Homo sapiens: one gene and its partner. The protein of the gene in region 2 purifies or fractionates together with the protein of the main gene of each other region. This does not show direct contact. Each region holds a gene or a part of one and is shown on either strand. Other genes may lie near its edges.

Region 1 (3,986 bases), on a different chromosome or scaffold from region 2:
CCTCCCATGTGCTGAGTACTTTCTTTTCAGACAGGCCAGGCATGGTGGCTCTGGCCTGTAATCCCATCACTTTGGGAGGCTGAGGTGAGTGGATTGCTTGAGGTCAAGAGTTTGAGACCAGCCTGGTCAACATGACGAGACCCCCTCTCTACTAAAAATACAAAAATCAGCTGGACATGGTGGCACACGTAGTCCCAGCTACTTGGGAGGCTGAGGCACAAGAATCACTTGAACCTGGGAGGCGGAGGTTGCAATGAGCCAAGATCACACCACTGCACTTCAGCCTAGGTGACAGAGAGACCTTGTCTCCAAAAAAAAAAAAAAAAGAAAGAAAAAAAGAAAAATAGCCTTTTTAGACATCATCTTTTTTTCTTTTTTTTTTGAGATGGAGTTTCACTCTGTCACCCAGGCTGGAGTGCAGTGGCACGATCTCAGCTTACTGCAACCTCCGCCTCCCAGGTTCATGCGATTCTCGTGCCTCAGCCTCCCAAGTAGCTGGGACTACAGGCATGTGCCATCATGTCCAGCTAAACTTTTTTTGTGTGTATTTTAGTAGAGACGGGGTTTCATTATGTTGCCCAGGGTGCTCTCGACCTCCTCAGCTCAGGCAATCCGCCCACCTTGGCCTCTCAAAGTACTAGGATTACAGGCCATGAGCCATGGTGCCCGGCCCAGACATCATCTTTACATTTACAATTTCCCTGTGGAACATACACGTTAGCCCTCTTCAACACACGGGAAACTGATGGGAAAGGTGAAGTAATTTGTCCAAGGTCACACAGCAAATAAGTGGAACAATCGAGCTCTGAAGCTAAATAAATTTGATGTCAAAGACCCTAGAAATAGGAGAAATAATCCCTAATTTCAAAGAGTTTACAACGTATGTGAGAAAATAAACACACATACAAACACACTCAAGCATGGACATGCATGCTCTAACTTTTTGTAATAAGAGGCATAGGCTTCTTTAATATAGTCCATAGGTTTACGAAAAAAAAAAAAAAGAGACATAGGCAGTACGTGATAAAGGAGTTTAAGCAGGCCGGGCACAGTGGTTCATAGCTGTAATCTCATTGCACTCCAGCCTAGGCAACAAGAGCAAAATTCTATCTCAAAAAAAAAAAAAAAAAAAAAGGAGTTTAAGTAGAGGGGTCTGGTGGGCTTTTTTTTCACGTTAGTGTGACCTGGGAAGGCTTCTTGGAGGAAGATTTAAGCTGCACTGTGCATAATAAGCATACATAATAAAAGAGCAGAAGGGCACTTTTAAGGCAGAGGAAACAGCATAAATAAACTACAGCAGAAATTGACTTAGCATATCTGCTGGGACATTGAGCGGCTTGATTTGGCTTGACCAAAGGTATAAAAGAGAGCAATGGAAACAGCTCAAGGAGGAAATGGTTGATGACTATAATGTCAGTATAAGGAGTTTGAACTCATACATTATGGGTTATTGAAGAAAAAGGATTAGGAAATTAGTAGTGGTTTATTGAATAGATTATAACAGATAAAATCTGGAGAGAAAGGGAGAAGTCAAGAAACTATTACATACCAAAATTATCAAAAAAGGATTTTTTTAAAAAAATAACTATTACCGTATTCCTCTCTTATCTCCTTATGTGCAGTGGACACGTTCAAGATCCCCCGGTGGGTGCCTAAAACCATGGACAGTACTGAATCCTACATATTCTACATATACCGTGTTTTTCCTATATATACATACCTATGATAAAGTTTAATTTATAAATCAGACACAGTAAGACAGTAATAATAATAACTGATAATAAAATAGAAAAATTATAATAATATACTGTAATAAAGGTTTTGTGAATGTGGTCTCTCTCTCAAAATATCTTACTGTACTGTGCTCACCTATTTTCAGACTACAGTAGATCATGGCTAACTGAGACCACAGATAAGAAGGGGAGAGTACTGTATAGTATTTGAGACACAAAGCAACAGGCTCCTGACTGAGGTAATTAATAGTAGAAAAAGAAAAAAAGCAACAAAAGTACCATAGGCAGTATATGATTAATATAATAGTAATTGAATGGCTCTGAGGAGAAGGCTAAAAACACTGTGAAGTTGCTGAATAGATGGATTAACAGGCAACAGGAAAGAGGAGAAGAAATAATTTTTCAAGCTAGAATTCTAAATTTTTTTTCTAGAAACAGACTATTAGACTAGTAAATTATATTTTTTAATTTTCTTCAAAGACAGGGTTGGCTGGGTGCAGTGGCTCACACCTGTAATCCCATCTCAAATAATAATAATAATAATAAAATAAAGACAGGGTCTCACTTTTTTGCCCAGGATGGTCTTAAACTCCTGGGCTGAAGCAATCCTCCTGTCTCAGTCTCCCAGAATGCTAGGATTACAGGTGTGAGCCACCACACCCAGCTAGACTAGTAAATTAAGCATAAGGCTTTAAACCTCCAATTTTAAAAAGGCATGCTTATGGAATTATCAGTTTTATATATTTTATATTTGAAGCAATTCTAAATTCATCTATGAACAATACTAAAGACACCTAGTTCTATGGGGACCATCTGTACCAATTTGCCTGAGGTGACACCCAATTCACCTCTAGTGATTCAAGGCAATTATTAATAACACCATTTTCATTCTCAAATACATCCTGGTTGAACAACTATACGTGTAGTCTAAGTCTTAATGCAATTATTTGACTAAAATAGGTCTTTCCTTGATTTTAAAAATAATTCAGCCAGGTGCAGTGACTCATGCCTGTAATCCCAACATTTTGGGAGTCCAAAGCAGAAGGATCACTGGAGCCCAGGAGTTCAAGACCATACTGGGCAATGCATTGAGACTTTGTCTACTAAAAATCAAAATAATTAGTTGGCTGTGGTGGTGAATGCCTGTAGTCCCAGCTACTTGGGAGGCTGAGGAAGGAGGACCACTTGAGCCCAGGAGGTCAAGACTGCAGTGAGCCAAGATCATGCCACCACACTCCAGCCTGGGCAACAGAGCAAGAACTTGTCTCAAAAATAATAATAAATAAAATAAAAAATTAGGCCAGGTGCAGTGGCTCATGCCTGTAATCCCAGCACTTTGGGAGACTGAGGCAGGTGGATCACGAGGTCAAGAGATCAAGACCATCCTGGCCAACACAGCGAAACCCCGTCTCTATTAAAAATACAAAAATTAGCTGGGCATGGTGGCGCGTGCCTGCCCAGTTACTTGGGAGGCTGAGGCAGGAGAATCGCTTGAACCCGGGAGGCGGAGGTTGCAGTGAGCTGAGATTGCACCACTGCACTCCAGCCTGGTGACAGAGTGAGACGCCGTCTCAAAAAAAATAAAAATAAAAAATTAATAATTCAATATCACAACCAGGACAGAAGAACATAAAGGGAAATGAAACTGTTCACCAAAGTAGCGTATTAAGGAAATATTTAATAATAATTCAATAGGCAGCTGTTGAGCACTCCTAAAGTCAGACATTGTACTGGACTTGGAAATGCAAAGCTAAATAAGATGCAATATATAGTTCCTGAATTCAAATTGCTTACACTTTACTACAGGAAGACAGACACAACAGAAAAATTCCAAATGGCATGATTAATCAAGAGTCAAATGCATTATGTCCTAGGGAAATGTAAAACACAACATTATAAGGCTATTTTAATAATTTACTACGGGGGTAAGAACTGTTTTTGCTTACAACTTTTTAGAAGAGTTTACAAACCTGACTTTTTTTTTTACTGAGTCATTTAAAAAATATTTATGCACACCTACAATGTGCCAGGCACTTGGGATTATACAGAGAACAAAACAGATGCAATTTCTTCCCTTATAGAATGCACAGTACAGTGAAAGGTAAAGACAAGTAAACCGGTGATTATAACACGTGCTATAATGAAGGAAATAGAGTGTGTTAAGGGAACCTAGCTGGAGAAAGTTATGTTGAAGTAAGACCTGACGGATGAGTAGGTGTAACCCCGGGGATGAGGTATGTTGCAGATAAGGCC
Region 2 (5,404 bases):
ACTCAATACTGTTTATTTCCTTTTTTGTTTTTGGTAAGTAGAAAGAAATACAGTCATGTGTCACTTGATGGGTACGAGTCCTGAGAAATGCATCACTAGGCAATTTCATTGTTGTGCGAACATCACCACACCTGGATGGTGGCGCCTACTACACACCTAGGCTACAGGGTACAGTCTATTCCTCCTTGGCTACAAACCTGTACAGCATGTTACTGAAAACTGTAGGCAAGTGTAACACAATGGTGTCTAAACACATTTCAACACAGACAAAGTACAATAAAAATACAGTGTATAACCTTATGGGACCTCATGTGGACTCATCACTGACTGAAACATTGTTATGCGGTGTGGGACTGTATTTGGCTAAACTAGTAAGGTATGCTAATCATCCCTTATATTTCCTCTTTGTTGCAACTAGCACTATTACTTCTGTTTATCCTTTTGTACTTTGTAGGCTGTGTTTTAGTCAGTCACCTTTAATCCTCTCTGGAAAATGAGGAGCATGTGTGAATAAATGAAGCAAGCAGGCAAGCTCTGGGTAGACAGGAACTTTCTGCTTGTTCAGCCACATATCCCCAGCATCTTGTACAGTGAAGGACAGAGTGATACCAAAAATACTTAACAATCAGGAAAATACAAAGATACTAATCAGATAGAATTGTGCGGCTGAGCATGGTGGTTCATGCCTGTAATCCCAGTGCTTTGGAAGGGCTGAGGTAGAAGGATTGCTTGAGCCAAGAGTTTGAGACCAGCCTGGGCAATATAGCAAGAATTTGTCTCTTAAAAAAAAAAAAATTAGCTGGGCATGATGGTGTGCTGCCTGTAGCCGTAGCTACTCAGGAGGCTGAGGTAGGAGGGTCGCTTGAGCTCAGGAGTTCCAGGTTGCAGTGCGTAATGATTGTGCCACTGCACTCCAGCATGGGTGACACAGTGAGACCCTCTCTCTGAAGGAAAAAAATTGTAGAGGGAGAAGGGTGTCTGAAGGGTCCCAGAAAAGGGTCCTTCTGGAAAAGGAATGTTACTCAGGTGTTACAGAGCAGCAGCTGTTTACCAACCAACACGGAAGCATTTAAATATTTTTACAAACTCAATACAAATTTGAGTAAGTATTTCTGGTGGCCCTTAAAGTCTTCACTGTGACACACTGTGCTGTCTGGCTAAGTTCTCCAGAGAAAGCACGGCCAGCTTTGTCTCCTCAAGCAGAGGCACGCAGAAGGCAGGGAAGGTGACCCCCCTCTTGCCATCGCAGGCAGCAGTTAGGAGCACAAACACAAGCTGTGCCAGAAAACAGTGGGTGATTCAGTCCATACTTGAGCAAGAGAAGAGATGGGACAAGATGCCCTCTAAAATTCCTCTAGTGAGAGGCAAAGACACACAAGAAATATGAGTAAACCTCACAAGAAAAAGTAGAAACCAACTCAACCTCGACAGAAAAATGCTAATTAACTATTGAGATCGTAATCCACATGTGAGAAAGGAACATTTCGTCAAGTGAGTCAACAAAAACCATGGAGCATGCACCAACAGATATATGCTAAGTCAGAGGTTTTATAAGATCCTGGTGAAAAAGGACAGAAAGTAGCCCTGTGATTACAGAGGGGAAAGCCAATTCTCTGATGAGTGGTTCAACATTTTTTTTTTTTTTCCTGAGATGGAGTCTTGCTCTGTTGCCCAGGCTGGAGTGAAGTGGCATGATCTTGGCTCACTGCAACCTCTGCCTCCCAGGTTCAAACGATTCTCCTGCCTCAGCCTCCCAAGTAGCTGGAATTACAGGTGTGCGCCGCCACGTCCAGCTAATTTTTGTATTTTAGTAGAGATGGGGTTTCACCGTGTTGCCCAGGCTGGTCTCAAACTCCTGAGCTCAGGCAATCTGCCCACCTCGGCCTCCCAAAGTGCTGTAATAAGCATGAGCCACCATGCCCAGGTGACACACCACTTTTTAAAAATCACCAAGCGTGGCATCCATTGATGGCCTCCAGTACCTTTCTCCTTTTCCTCCTTTTAATTACAGCAACCCCCAAGCTTCAGCAGGGCACATAACTGCCTAGCTAGAGACTACATTCCCCAGCCTCCCTTGCAGAGAAGTGTGTCATGTAACTAAGCTTGGGCCAATGGGATAAGGACAGAAGTGATCCTAGAGCATCTCCTTAAAGCCACTTGCCAGGTATTCCCACTCCACCTTCCCTTCCCTTCCCTCTGGCTGGCAAATGGTGATGCCTGGAGCAACCTTGTAAGTCATGTGTCATGGACAGCAGAGCTGCCCATCAGCCTGGGATAGCTAATATTAGACTGAAAACAGAAAAATAAAATCTTGTTAAGCCACTTAATTTTTTTGTGGAGGGCAGAGAATGATGATGGGGGTATTATACTAAAATAGCACCTAACTAACCACTGTTCACACCTTCTCCTCTTACCTACCTTCATTTTATATCCAATACATTTGCATGTCCCCCTTATAATCTCTGCTTTTGAATCTGCCATTACTGAACTTCCACTATTCCTTACTTAACTGAACTAAATCACATAGCTGAACTCCTTTGAAAGCATGGGCTCTCTTGATGGAATACTGATAGTGCAGTGTGGGAGAGGGGGGAGTGGATTCAAAGGTCCTGCTTCTCATCCTGGGGGGTGGGGTAGGGCTTAGACAAACACTCAGGTCCACTGACAAAGACCTGCAGCCAAAAGTAACTCCCTAAAAATAAAATAAAGGCTAATATTAGGACTTGTTTAGTTCCCTGCTTAAGGTCTTATAGCTTCCCCACCGCAAATTTAAAACTCAGTTAATATAATGAAGGCAACTGGCATCATGGGTAAGAGTGCAGACCCTGGAATCAGAACCAATCTGGGATTCAGCCCCATACCTGCTATTGATATGACCATGGGCAAATTAACTACTCTGTCTCAGTTTCCTTTCCTGTCAAATGGGGATAATAGGGCCCTCACAGGGTAGCTATGAAAATTCAAGAAAATAGTATGTGTTGAGTTACTTTGTAGACATACTACTAGAGGACTCACTAAATGTTAGTTCTTTTTTTTGAGACAGGGTCTCGCTCTTTCATTCAGGCTAGAGTGCAGTGGTGTGATCACGGCTCACTACAACCTCCACCTCAGCACTTCCTGGGCTCAAGTGATGCTCCCACATCAGCCTCCCAAGTAGCTGGGACTACAGGTGCATACCACCACACCTGACTAGCTTTTTGTATTTTTAGTAGAGACACGGTTTTGCCATTTGGCCCAGGCTGGTCTCAAACTCCTGGGCTCGAGCAATCTGCCCACCTTGGCCTCCCAAAGTGCTAAGATTACAGGTGTGTATTAGTCCATTTTCACGCTATTGATAAAGACATACCCGAGACTGGGCAATTTACAAAAGAAACAGGTTTAATGATTTACAGTTCCACGTGGCTGGGGAGGCCTCACACTCATGGCAGAAGGCAAGGAGGAGCAAGTCACATCTTACATGGATGGCAGCAGGCAAAGAGAGACAGATTGGGCAGGGAAAATCCCCCTTATAAAACTGTCAGATCTTGTGAAACTTATTCACTATCACAAGAACAGCACGGAAAGACCTGCCCCCATGATTCAATTACCTCCCACTGGTCCCTCCCACAACATGTGGGAATTCAAGATGAGATTTGGGTGGGGACACAGCCAAGCCATGTCGAGGCATAAGCCACCACACCCAGCCACTAAGTGTTAGCTGTTATGATAACTCTATGCCTTTCCACATGCAATTCCCTCTGCCTGAAATAACTTTCTCCTTTTGTTCACCTAGGGAATTCCTTCACATTCATTGTAACTTATGCTCTGTGAGGCCTTCCCAGCAACTCAATCTGCCAGGAGCAATCAATCTCCTTCATCTGTGCTACTGCAAAGTCACATATATCAATTCTACTTATCATAGTATATTGCACTTGGGTGTTTAAATTTCTGACCCTCCTCACTATGGACATGACTCATGTCTTATTCACTGCTAAATCCCAAGTACTTGGCAGAATACACATTATAGGGTCTCATACATGTTTGCAATAATGAACTGAATACATCCTTGAATTCACTCTAGAATCAAATGACCTCTCCTCTGTATTAGAAATTTGGCCTAACAGGCCAGGCAAGGTGGCTCACGCCTATAATCCCAGCACTTTGAGAGGCTGACGTAGGTGAATCACCTGAGGTCAGGAGTTTGAGACCAGCCTGACCAACATGGTGAAACCTCATCTCTACTAAAAATACACAATTAGCCGGGCATGGTGGCGCATGCCTGTAATCCCAGCTACCTGGTAGGCTGAGGCAGGAGAATCACTTGAACCCAGGAGGCAGAGGTTGCAGTGAGCCGAGATCACGCCACACTGCACTTCAGCCTGGGCGACAGAGTAAGACTCCGTCTCAAAAAAAAAAAAAAAAAGAAAAGAAAAAGAAATTTGGCTTAACAATTATGTCATTCTTTCTATAAAAAGAATTGTCCTAGCAAATTAAATCGATGCATAATTGTCATTGCTGATATTCTAAAAGGCAGTTATCTGAACATGAACATCTATAGAAATGTTCTCTAATGGACTTTTCTTGTCTAACATTTCTTCACATTCCTTTAAAAATTGTTGGCAGGTGCAATTCAGAAGATCTTAAAAATTACAGTAATTGAAAATGTATTGACTTTGTAATAACGAAGAAGTTATTAGCATTTTAAAGAGAGAAAAGAGTTATAAAGAATACTTAGCATGTACACTGAAAGCTTTAAAGTCTTTTCATTTGTTTCTCCTAATTGCCTTATGACAGTGAAAACAGCTGTATTCCTGTTACATGGGAGGTCAAACATGATCAATTCTAAAGCAGACTCTACATTGTGGCTAACTTTGGTGGCACTTACAGTGGTCACTGAATCCAGACTTCAAAAAAATACATTAATATTATATGTTAGAATTTTCTAAAGGGAAAAGAAATGTATGTAAGGATCCACCTTTGAGGAGGATGAATATTATCATTCTCCTTAAAGAACTTTACAAAAGTTTCTAATGACAGTGACCATAAATAGACTTAAAAAGTAGAAGACATTTTTTAAAAGAGAGATTTAAAATACCAGGCATTAAAATAATTAAAATACCTCGATGCAGATGTGATGCATTCCTCCAGCCTTGTTTTTCTGCAGAAAACCTGCAATTGGACTGTCACGTCCCAATGGATGAAGCAGTTCCATCTTGGTATTTCCCAGGTTGACAAAAACAACAGATACTCCATGTTCAGGAAGAGGGACCGCTTCACTTACCTGGGCCCCCAGAATATTCTTATAAAATGCTGCAGCCTTTTCCAAATCTGGCACTGCTATGGCTACATGGTTGAGTCGACCCAGGTTCCACACAGAACCTGTCACTTGATCCAAGGGCTGTGATGTGGAAGAAGCTCTTACTGT

The links. Proteins that work in one complex are often made in the same cells at the same time.
Region 1: the proteins of MCEE (region 2) and DBT purify together in Homo sapiens (co-immunoprecipitation; 2 studies listed by BioGRID and IntAct, with this or other methods). This does not show direct contact.

The regions. Positions count from the first base shown.
Region 1 is NC_000001.11:100,242,951-100,246,936, forward strand, and holds part of DBT (lipoamide acyltransferase component of branched-chain alpha-keto acid dehydrogenase complex, mitochondrial isoform 1 precursor), read right to left. Parts: intron 1,653-3,986; exon of another isoform or gene 1,593-1,652; intron 1-1,592. UniProt on the Homo sapiens protein: The branched-chain alpha-keto dehydrogenase complex catalyzes the overall conversion of alpha-keto acids to acyl-CoA and CO(2).
Region 2 is NC_000002.12:71,119,108-71,124,511, forward strand, and holds part of MCEE (methylmalonyl-CoA epimerase, mitochondrial precursor), read right to left. Parts: coding exon 5,099-5,404; intron 1-5,098. UniProt on the Homo sapiens protein: Methylmalonyl-CoA epimerase involved in propionyl-CoA metabolism.